3 linked regions of the Homo sapiens genome follow. The protein of the gene in region 1 purifies or fractionates together with the protein of each later gene. This does not show direct contact. Each region holds a gene or a part of one and is shown in the gene's direction. Other genes may lie near its edges.

Region 1 (3,754 bases):
AGCAAAGCAAAACATGCTCAGGCCTAACTCCTAGAGATTCTGATTCAATGTATATTTGGGATAGAGTCTCTACATTAATTATTTTTTTTTTCAGTTGCACTTGCAGTTCTGATTTGCAGCCAAGACTGAGAACCACTGGAGTAGGATAGAGTGAAAATGGGATGAGGAAGTGTTAGGACATGACACTAGGACCAGATGGTGAAAGGAAATGGTATGCAAATACAATATAACAAACTCTCTTCCCTGACAACTTCATTCTTTTGAAATATTTTCTTTTTCATTTTTTTTTTACTGCCACTACTTTTGCATGAAAGAATACGAATCCCACCATTGTAAAAACAGAGATAAATGTTTAAAACCTTTGTAACTAAAAGACCTCTGTTTTGCTTGAGGTATTAAGCTGGTGCAAAAGTAATTGTGGTCTTTGTCAATGGCAAAAACCGCAATTACCTTTGCACCAATCTAATGATATTTAACATAAACAAACTCAGGGCAGAGTGCACCTTCTGATTGGGTGTACCATCTACCGCTCGGGGCTCTTTAACAAATGACCAAAGAAAACATGAATTTTGACATAACTGGTGCTAGGGTTATTGAAGGGTGGGTTTCCATTCTGGGTTAGTGCTCCCAGTCTCTAGTCAAGCACAAGAACATGCCTACCCCAGAGGGCTCTTCCAAATTCCCAGCTATCTGAGATTATGAGACAAAGGTTCTTTAGCGCCTACCAAATGAGCAACAATGAAGATAAAAGGGACCTCTCCTTCCATCATAACCAGTTCCCCAGGAAGCACCATTTCTCTTACTCTTGGAAGGTCGGATATTTTTTCCCTTTACCATACACTGGCCTTCCATGTCCTAACTGCTATTTTCAAATAAATGAACGTTATATTCTTGGAGGACAGATCAGGGATGCTAAACTGCACCTTTATCATGATTTTAGGGATGAGCGCCTTTTACTTAAGTCCTGCTAGTGGCACATATTTTAAAAGGCCATAGAGGACATCCGTGTTGTCAACACAAGTGAAGGCGCTCGGAAGAGTGTTGGTCAGCAAGAATCAGCACAAAGACATTGGAGGAGAGACAACAGCTTGTTTCTGGAAACAAATGAACAACAAAAAAACACTAAAACATCTCGAGGGGGCCCCTGACTTGAGCCCTGCATGGGAAAAGCTGCCAAGAGCTAGCATGACAAGGGACTGGCCCTGGGCTGCGGTGAGGAAACCCAGCGTCCTGACCACACTGCTGGGTCAGCGAGGCGTCCCTCAGAGACCGGAAACGCGGACTTCAGCTCGCTTGGGAAACGGCTTCCATTAGCAGAAGGGAGACTGCGGTTTAGTCCCGAGGTCGCTCCAGCAGCCCGGCCTCACGCGACCCACCATTCCCGCCGCCCCCTCACGGTGCCCGCCGTTCCCGCCGCCCGGCTTTCTAACCGGGCCCCTAGTTCCCCGCCCCGTGCCCTCTGGAGACCTGCAGCTCCTGCCGCCCTGCGCCCGCTCCCAGGGCCCGTCGTTCCGCCGCCCTATCCCTCCTCAAGGGGCCCCTAGCTGCCTCCTCGCGACCCTTTCCGGACTCGGCCTGCCCACTCCTGCCCGCTAACCCGCCTGGCTCCCGGGCGAGAGCCCTCGCGCGGCTCTGGTTCCTGTTCCTCTAACGCCGCCGGGGCTGCGGGATGCCGACTCCGCGGACCGCCCAGACCCGGAACTGCTGAGGCAGCAGCGGGCTCGCGGCGCTTGGCTCATCCCGGGATTCCCCAGCTCTCGCGCTGGGCCCGCCGCGTTCGCACCAAGCACGCCAGGCGGCCCTGGCCTACCTCCCTCCCGCCTCCCGGCAGCTGGCACGAGGGAACCTGGCCGTCAGGTTTCCCCTGGGATCCTGGGACGGTATCAGGCGGGGAATCTGTGCGGCCGCGGCGAGGTAGGTGAGGTGAGGCGGGGCGAGGTGGGCGAGGGGGGCGAGGTGAGGCGGGGCGAGGCGGGGCGAGGCGAGGCGGGGCGAGGTGGGCGAGGTGGGCGAGGTGAGGCGGGGCGGGTGTCGTCGCGCTGGGCCGAGCTTACGACTCCAGCTGACCCGCTCGCGGCTGCCCAATTTCGTTGAGGCTCAGGACGAGGGACGGGGCGGCAAATTGTCACAGAGGTCGCCGTAGACCGGTGTGCAACCGAAGGTGAAGAGCGGGAAGGCGAGGACCGAATCGCCTCTGGTGTGCGTTGTCCGACAGGAAGTCCCGAATGGGCTGTGAGCCGCCGGTGGAGGTGCCCGGGCAGGTGCAGAGCCACAGCCTGCGCCCCGTGAGCCGAGGCGGGTAGGAGGAACAGGGACCTGGCGGCGACACACGTTGGGCGGAAATTCACAATGAACAGGGAAGGGGGGACGGTCACCCACTCAAAACTGGCTAAATGAACCTCAGAGGGAGCCCCGAGAGATGGGGAGCAAAGGTTAGGGGAAGCGGCAGGAGAAAACCTTCTTGGGGCAAAGGGCGTCACCAAAGGGGGTCACCGGAGCCCCGCAGGTTGGGGTGGGAGGGCTGGGCTGGAGGTGAGCAAAGCTGCACGGGGAGAATGAATTAAGAAAGTTGAGAGGAAGCCTGTCTCATCCAAATCACTATAGCTTTTGTGGTCATTGCTAAGTGTGGAGTACTGCGCAAATCCTGAAGGGAACTCTATTAGCCATCTCAGCTTTTATCATCTTAAAACGCGAATTTCGCGTGCAGCTCCATTTAGCTTCGTAAACTTAAGCCCCCGCATATGAAAGGATGAGACCTAATATGACAATCATGTCAGGACTAATGATATATCACACAGGTTGACACTCTGCAATTTAAAAACAGGACTTTGTCTAAACTCCACAAGTAATTCCTTACTCAAAAGTTCTGTGTAAACAAAACAGAGGAACTGTCGTGCTGCTGGAAAGATGTACCAGCATTTTCACAAAACGAATTAAAAGATGGCTTTGCTTTCACTGTCATGGTTCTGTTGTGACAGAGTAGACTGGCTTTTCTGGGAGGGGCCTAGATTTACTATTTTAGTTACATTTTAAAATCAGTGTAATTACTTCGTTTTTAATCTACCACAAATTTCTGTTGTAACTATAAGATTTATATAATCTTATATTCTTACACTAATTTTTATTTGCAGGTGATTTATTTGGCATAAAAGTATTCTTTCAAGGATGGCAGAAGCTGTTTTGATTGATCTTTTTGGTTTGAAATTGAACTCTCAAAAAAACTGCCATCAGACATTACTGAAGACTTTGAATGCTGTCCAATACCACCATGCTGCCAAGGCCAAGTTTCTCTGTATAATGTGTTGCAGTAACATCAGCTATGAAAGGGATGGAGAACAAGATAATTGTGAAATAGAAACAAGCAATGGATTATCAGCTCTCTTGGAAGAATTTGAGATTGTTAGCTGTCCCAGCATGGCTGCCACTTTGTATACCATTAAACAGAAAATTGATGAAAAAAATCTGAGCAGCATTAAGGTAATTGTACCCAGGCACAGGAAGACATTAATGAAAGCTTTTATTGATCAACTCTTCACTGATGTTTACAATTTTGAATTTGAAGATTTGCAAGTGACTTTTAGGGGAGGGCTTTTTAAACAGTCCATTGAAATAAACGTAATCACAGCTCAAGAACTAAGAGGAATTCAGAATGAAATAGAAACATTTTTGAGAAGTCTGCCAGCACTGAGAGGAAAATTAACTATTATCACTTCTTCTTTGATCCCAGGTATATTAACCACTAACTGTTGTTTTT
Region 2 (3,235 bases), on another chromosome or scaffold:
ACTATACATCTGATTGTTTTATTCTGAGAAATGATACCTATAGCCATTAAAGTCTGATTGAATGCCATTTTCTTATTTAAATGAACACATCCTACATTATGGTCAAGACTGCATACATCATAGAGAAAGTATATTGCAAAGAAAAGTGATGCTTGGGTGGGCTGCTTTGGGCTATCATCCAGATTCCATGGGGTAGTTTTCCCTTCTAATGGGAATAGTTGGGTGTAGATGTTTGAGAAATACTAGATGATGTGATTGCATGATGGGAAAACGCTTTTGTGCTTTAAACTGTGTTGGCTGGGTGTGTGGGGCTCATGCCTGTAACCCAAGCACTTTGGGAGGCCGAGGAGGGTGGATCACCTGAGGTCAGGAGTTCGAGACCAGCCTGACCAATATGGTGAAAACCTGTCTCTACTAAAAATACAAATAAATAAATAAATTAGCTGGGGGTGGTGGCTTGCGCCTATAGTCCCAGCTGCTCAGGAGGCTGAGACAGGAGAATTGCTTGAACACAGGAGGCGGAGGCTGCAGTGAGCAGAGATCCTACCACTGCACTCCAGCCTGGGTGACAGAGTGAGACTCCATCTCAAATGAAAAAAAAAAAAGGTATCCTCTAAGCCTAATGAAATAGAAAGTTTCATCATTACCGTTTCATTCTTTTGCTTTAGAATATTACACAGGCTTTGTTACTTACCCAGGACAAGCCATAATTTCTCTGAGACTCAGTTTTCTTATCTGTAAAGTGAGAAGAGTAAGATCTATTTCACAGAGTAGGGATTAAATGATAAAGTGTATGTAGAAGAACTTTAAACACTGAGTAGTGCCTGCTGTCTGTAAGGCATTATTACAAAACTACCACAGAGAGGGATAACATTTGTTCACATCAGTTACACTTTTGTACATTTTAGATCTCTCGAGAGGAGGATGCTTCTGCCCATGAGAGACTCTTGAAGATATTAATTAAGCTCACAGATTTCTACTTTGTGTTTAGTGTTCAGGAAGTCCCCTTGAAATCACTTTTACTTTACTTTGACTTCAGTAGGAAGATAGTTCATAATGACACCATCAAAGTAAGTTTTAAGCGTTTCGGGCCTGCTTTTCTCAGGTTTGAGTTTTTATAGTTTGTAATGATTTTTTTAGTAAAATAAGCATATGATTAAAAGTTTTATATTAACTACTACAACTTTTAAGTATCAGTTGCTTCTACATAACCACTATATTTACTGTTCTGAACAATACATACTTCAAAGCACATGAAATTGAAAAAGCAAAGCATCTTTACTCTCTTCATAGAGAACAGAAAAAAATATTAAACTTTTAAGCATTATAAAATACTTTATTGAATAAAATGTTAGCAAGTCAGCAATTGATGAATAATTTGCTTTGAAACTTTAACTTGTAATCTGGCTAATTAGCACTAATTTACAAACTATTCTACATTGTAAAGGAGAAATGAATTTCTGGTGTTGTCCTTCTTTGATTTAGAAGCTTAACATCTGCAGGACCTAATTGGCCATTGATGTGAGGGTGAGGAAGAAGGAACCACATCGCAGGGAGAAAAGACTAAAGGAAGGCAGAGGCTCTAATATCAGGTCAATATAGGTCAGCACACTACCCACATGAAATGGCTTTGGCTGGGTTCCAAGGTCAAGTAAATAAGATCAATTTTTTCATTCCTTCAATTACATATTTTTTTGCTAAGCTTCGGTCATTCATGGTATACAATGCATCTAACTTGCTGAGCAAAATGCTAGACATGAAATAAATGTTAGCTATGGTAGAAGAGCTTCAGTAACAGGTAACCTGAAACAGGCTGATAGCTCATAGAAGGGCATGCTTGAATTCGGGGAAAAAAAAAAATCTCTGTTAAAATGGGATGCAAAACACTTTATACATTGCTTTTACAAAAGTTAGACTAATTTAAAGGAAAGTCTTCAAAAGCAATCCGTGATCGATAAAATTACAGAAAAAAATCAGGAAAGGGGGAAATAATAAGGGAAGAAAGATTAGCAGAACAATCTTCCGCCCCAGTAAAGAGGACTGAATTTTAACCAATGAGATCACAAGTTTGAAAATTTCCTTTTCAGGCCCAATCAAGAGGAGGCTATGTCTATAAATACGACTGCCTAGACCCTCTCGTATCAATGAGACAGCATGGCCCGTACTAAGCAGACTGCCCGCAAGTCGACCGGCGGCAAGGCCCCGAGGAAGCAGCTGGCTACCAAAGCGGCCCGCAAGAGCGCGCCGGCCACGGGCGGGGTGAAGAAGCCGCACCGCTACCGGCCCGGCACCGTGGCTCTGCGGGAGATCCGGCGCTATCAGAAGTCTACGGAGCTGCTGATCCGCAAGCTGCCCTTCCAGCGGCTGGTACGCGAGATCGCGCAGGAGTTTAAGACGGACCTGCGCTTCCAGAGCTCGGCCGTGATGGCGCTGCAGGAGGCCAGAGAGGCCTACCTGGTGGGGCTGTTCGAAGACACGAACCTGTGCGCCATCCATGCCAAGCGCGTGACCATCATGCCCAAGGACATCCAGTTGGTCAGCCGCATCCGCGGGGAGCGGGCCTAAGGTATATTTTTAAGTGGTCGATCTAAAGGCTCTTTTCAGAGCCACTGCCGTTTTCATCAAGAGCAGCTGTACCGGCTCTCCATCTGATGTGCGTCTGCCTTGCGCAGCGGTCAGGGGCCAGGGGCACTCGTGGTGGGTGACGTTACAGAACCCAAAGCCCAGCCGTGAGTTGGCCGGCAGTAGAGAAAGCCGCAGAGGCATGGTCCTTGTGGTTCCGGCCGAGCCTTTTCACGCTGGTTTAAGGCTAGAGGTCCGGCTCCCAATTCTGTGGGTAAAGTTTTGCATGGGGGCAAGAGACTATGGGGAGTTTCTAGATGTGGAAGATCCTGAGTGTAAGGGTGGGGCGAGTCCCTTAAAAATTATAAACTCGTTTCCTGGTTTATTTAGGAACTATAAGCTTAATTAAAGCTCAGCATCTTCCTCATTGCATACTACAGGCGGTGTCCAAGCCAGAATAGTAATTTAAGCGGGCGGGAGTAAATATCTGGCGATTTTTAAAAATGTGTGGGTGAGGTAGTATTTCAAGGAAGAGAAAAAAATTTCCACAAAGTATAGAATAAAAATGCAAAAACGAGGCAAGAGAGTTAACTTGTCTAGCTGGCGTTAAGATTTCTTCCGTATGCAAGTCTAATGGAAAGTGAAAACCAAGAAAAAAACCTCAAGCCGTTGA
Region 3 (3,754 bases), on another chromosome or scaffold:
GCTTTGATGTGAAACAGTCGTTTAGTATACAGTATGATTGTTTAATTCTCATGTGTACTTTTTTTTTCTTTTTGAGACAGGGTCTCACTGTGCCACCTAGGCTGGAGTGCAGTGGCACAATCATGGCTCACCTTAGCCTCAACCTCTCGGGCTCAGGTGATCCTCCCACCTTAGCCTCCCAAGTAGCTGGGACTACAGGCACGTGCCACTCGCCTGGCTAATTTTTGTATTTTTTGTAGAGATGGGGTTTTGCCGTGTTGCCCAGGCTGGTCTTGAACTCCTGGGCTTAAGCCTGCATTGGCCTCCCAAAGTGCTAGGATTGCAGGCATGAGCCACTGTGCCTAGCCTCGTATACTTTTTAAAAACATTTTTAAATGTTTCCAAAATTGGAGTGTAAATTAATACGTATATTCAGTTTCGGCATTCTCTATGGTACCATCCCTCTACCCCCATCTTTTCCCCTCCACCTTAAAAACCAGTGATTGTGTTAGTGATGTATATTACAATCAATGATATCATGGAATTAAGGGCATGTAGTTATGACATCAGAAGTACTAGACTGTATTTATGCTGGTACTAAGTGGTTTGAAGAATAATTTGAAGTCAGAATTTAGGATGCCAAAGCATTATGCTCATAAATCATCGTTCCATTTTCTGAAATGTAGTACTTTGGAAATATAATTCAAAGTGTGATATTCTTACAGCTAAATTGACCTTGACTATTCAACGTCCATATATAGTTTATATGCTACAAGATCTTGATATTCTTGAAGACTGGACAACAATTAGGAAGGTATGATTAATGAGCAGTGGAACACAAGTATGTTTTTATAGTCTACTTTTTAAGATTCTATGTTTTTTTTGTTAGTACATCAAAATATTATTGTAAATATGCTTTGCTTTTGCAACATTTTTCTAAGGCAATTTAATACTATTACAGATAGCAGTGAACTACAAGGATATTTTAAGAGTTAGAGACATGTCAGCAGTTTGATTGTATTTTTTCTATAATAATGTAACTAATAATTTATGGAAAAGTCCAAAAAACATTTATTTAGTCTGCCCAAAAATAATAACATCACCATCTGTGCCTAGTCCTTTGGCTGGTCCTGGCTTATAGAAAACACTTGATAAATATTTGTTGAACAAAAGAACATTTGAACCCTTATGTGTCTTGCATCCTATCATTAAACATTCAAGAATCATAGGCTTTTCTTTTCTTGCCTGAAAGTGGAGGCTTGTTTTCCATATTACATTTTTTCATTTTTGTAAATTTCTTAGTTGAGAATTAGAGATTATTTCAGGTATTGAAAACACCTCTAGGAGAAATTGTTATCCCTCATATTCTTTATGGTCTTAGACATTAAAAATTTGTTAGAGCAGCTAATGGTTATACTTTACTGTCTTTGTTATGGAGTTAATCGGTAATATTGTATATATTAAATAGATACCAAAATATATTTTCAGTCTGAACTCAGACTTCTTTCTTCCTCTTTTTTTTTTTTTTTAATTAAGGCAATGGCTACATTGGGGCCACACAGAGTGAAAACGGAACGTAAGTCATTTAGTCTGAGTTGGGAAATATTCTCTTTGGAGACTTGTTGAATCAGGGTTGTTATCTACGTACTAAAGAACTCTTGAATCAGTGGTTTTATTTCATCAGTGAACACCGTGCCTGAAATTATGAGGAATTCTTCTGGAGTCATTGCTTCACGTAAAAGTTTCAAAATTTCTGAATGTGGTATAATTATTTCAGTGTTCAGCTACATTCTTATTGCTAATAATGGATCAGTAACTCAAAAAAGTATTTATGCAGTGTTTTTTATGGGCTCTGTCATTCTATAGGGGAGGTATTTGGAATTTGTGGATTGGCTTCAGAGATTCTGTGAATCCTCTGAAATTATGTGCAAAATTCTGCATGTGCATTTTCTGAGGAGAGAGATCAGAATGCTGATATGCCTTAGTAAAATTCATATCAAGTTACACTTCCTTGATTTTTTTTTTGGAAGTCTAAAATCACTGCCAAAATGTGATGGTGTTTAGGATAAGTTTCTCTGTTTCTGCCTTCTTTCACTATAGGTGAGATTTCCTAATCCTTCTAAGGACAATGAAGCTAGACTAAAAAGAAAAACATATTTGAAATACTTAGGAAAGGAATTTCTAGTCACATTTAAACAGCTTAAGTAATCGATAAGAGACCAATTTCTGTTTAGGCTGGGCATGGTGGCTCATGCCTAGCATGATCCCAGCAATTTGGGACGCTAAGGCAGGAGGATCACTTGAGCCCAGGAGTTTGAGATCTGCCTGGGCAAGATGGCAAGACCCCATCTCTACAAAAAAATACAAAAATTAGCCAGGCTTGGCGGTGTGTACTTGTAGTCTCAGCCTCTTGGGAGGCTGAGGTGGGAGGATCACCTGAGCCCTGGAGGTCGAGGCTCCAGTGAGCCATGATCACACCACTACACTGGGCAACAGAGCAGGATTCCATCTCTAAGAAAAAAAAAATTGCATTTTATTTTTAACCCCATGATTCCTTTAAACTTTTTATTTTGTGAGGAAATTGCAGCAGTATTTGCCCTGGGGAATTAACTGCCAGAGCAGCTGCCTAGACCTGTAGAGCAGTGGTTCTTAACATTTTTGGGTAATAGATTCCTTTTGAGAATCTCATTATCATAGTTGAGTGTGTCTCCCTCCCACTCTTATCTTCAGCATTGTATCCTATTAGTTTTACTCATAGCACTTCACTCAATTTGTACTTTTTAATTTTGTCTATCTCCTGACTGGATTGTAAGCTCCACAAAGGCTAGAACCATATCTCTTTTGGTCACAGTTTTTTCCCCAGCATACTTCCTTGTGTATAGGAAGTGTTCAGACAACATTTGTTGAATGAATGAATGAATGAATGAATGAATATACCCGATGGTATTTTAGGCCCTGAGAATACAATGGTAAAAGAAATATGGATCTCCTGGAGCCTCTTTAGGGGAGGTGGAATCATATATATGTAGATAAACAGTTAAGAAGATAGTTACAGATTATAATAATTACTCTAAAAGAACTGTGCAGTTGATATAACAATTAGCTGAGGAGTGGGTAGAGTAGTTAGGGAAGACCTCTCAGGAGCTGACATTTGAATGACTTCATGGTATGCTTTTGACACTGTGTTTCCATAAAAAAGATTTTTTTTTCCTGTATGAGTTATCTGACTAATGCCAGATGATTTCTGGAATTTAAAAATAGAAGTTGTACTTAGGACATTTCCTTTTTAGAATTAAAAGCCTGGGGAATGCTTGGAACATGTATTAAACTCTGCTTCTTTCGGTATATCAGATGCCCGCAGGGGAAAAAATAAAAAGTATAATTTTCAATTGAAATATGGCAATTGATATTTTAAATACTACTTAAAATTCACACTAGTAATTGATAACATACCTGCTTCCCCTTCTGGTACTTAATTAGTCAATTGATGATTTATTGTTCATTGTTTAGCTTTGTTTAGTAGTTATATTAAAAACTTAGTGATTATGTAAAAGAATGTAAGGAATAAATCTTTTTATTACATTTTAGGTTTGTTATTTAAGAAATATTTTTAGGCCTTTTTTACATATGCATGGATTGATGTTAATTGTTAATGTTCTGACCCTTTGTTCTTCTGACAGTGTTTTATTAATATAACAGTTTTTGAACTGATCCCTTTAGCACCTGTGAAACTGGAAAAACATCTGCACAGTGCTAGATCTGAAGAGGGAAGACT

Evidence for each region.
Region 2: the proteins of LACC1 (region 1) and H3-7 purify together in Homo sapiens (affinity purification with mass spectrometry; 3 studies listed by BioGRID and IntAct, with this or other methods). This does not show direct contact.
Region 3: the proteins of LACC1 (region 1) and BRMS1L purify together in Homo sapiens (affinity purification with mass spectrometry; 3 studies listed by BioGRID and IntAct, with this or other methods). This does not show direct contact.

The regions. Positions count from the first base shown.
Region 1 is NC_000013.11:43,877,821-43,881,574, forward strand, and holds the start of LACC1 (purine nucleoside phosphorylase LACC1), read left to right. Parts: upstream 1-2,083; 5' UTR 2,084-2,299; exon of another isoform or gene 2,300-2,432; intron 2,433-3,131; 5' UTR 3,132-3,165; coding exon 3,166-3,727; intron 3,728-3,754. UniProt on the Homo sapiens protein: Purine nucleoside enzyme that catalyzes the phosphorolysis of adenosine, guanosine and inosine nucleosides, yielding D-ribose 1-phosphate and the respective free bases, adenine, guanine and hypoxanthine.
Region 2 is NC_000001.11:143,904,886-143,908,120, reverse strand, and holds H3-7 (histone H3-7), read left to right. Parts: upstream 1-2,143; 5' UTR 2,144-2,154; coding exon 2,155-2,565; 3' UTR 2,566-2,611; downstream 2,612-3,235. UniProt on the Homo sapiens protein: Core component of nucleosome. Nucleosomes wrap and compact DNA into chromatin, limiting DNA accessibility to the cellular machineries which require DNA as a template.
Region 3 is NC_000014.9:35,864,207-35,867,960, forward strand, and holds part of BRMS1L (breast cancer metastasis-suppressor 1-like protein), read left to right. Parts: intron 1-728; coding exon 729-793; intron 794-1,515; coding exon 1,516-1,555; intron 1,556-3,678; coding exon of another isoform or gene 3,679-3,699; coding exon 3,700-3,754. UniProt on the Homo sapiens protein: Involved in the histone deacetylase (HDAC1)-dependent transcriptional repression activity. When overexpressed in lung cancer cell line that lacks p53/TP53 expression, inhibits cell growth.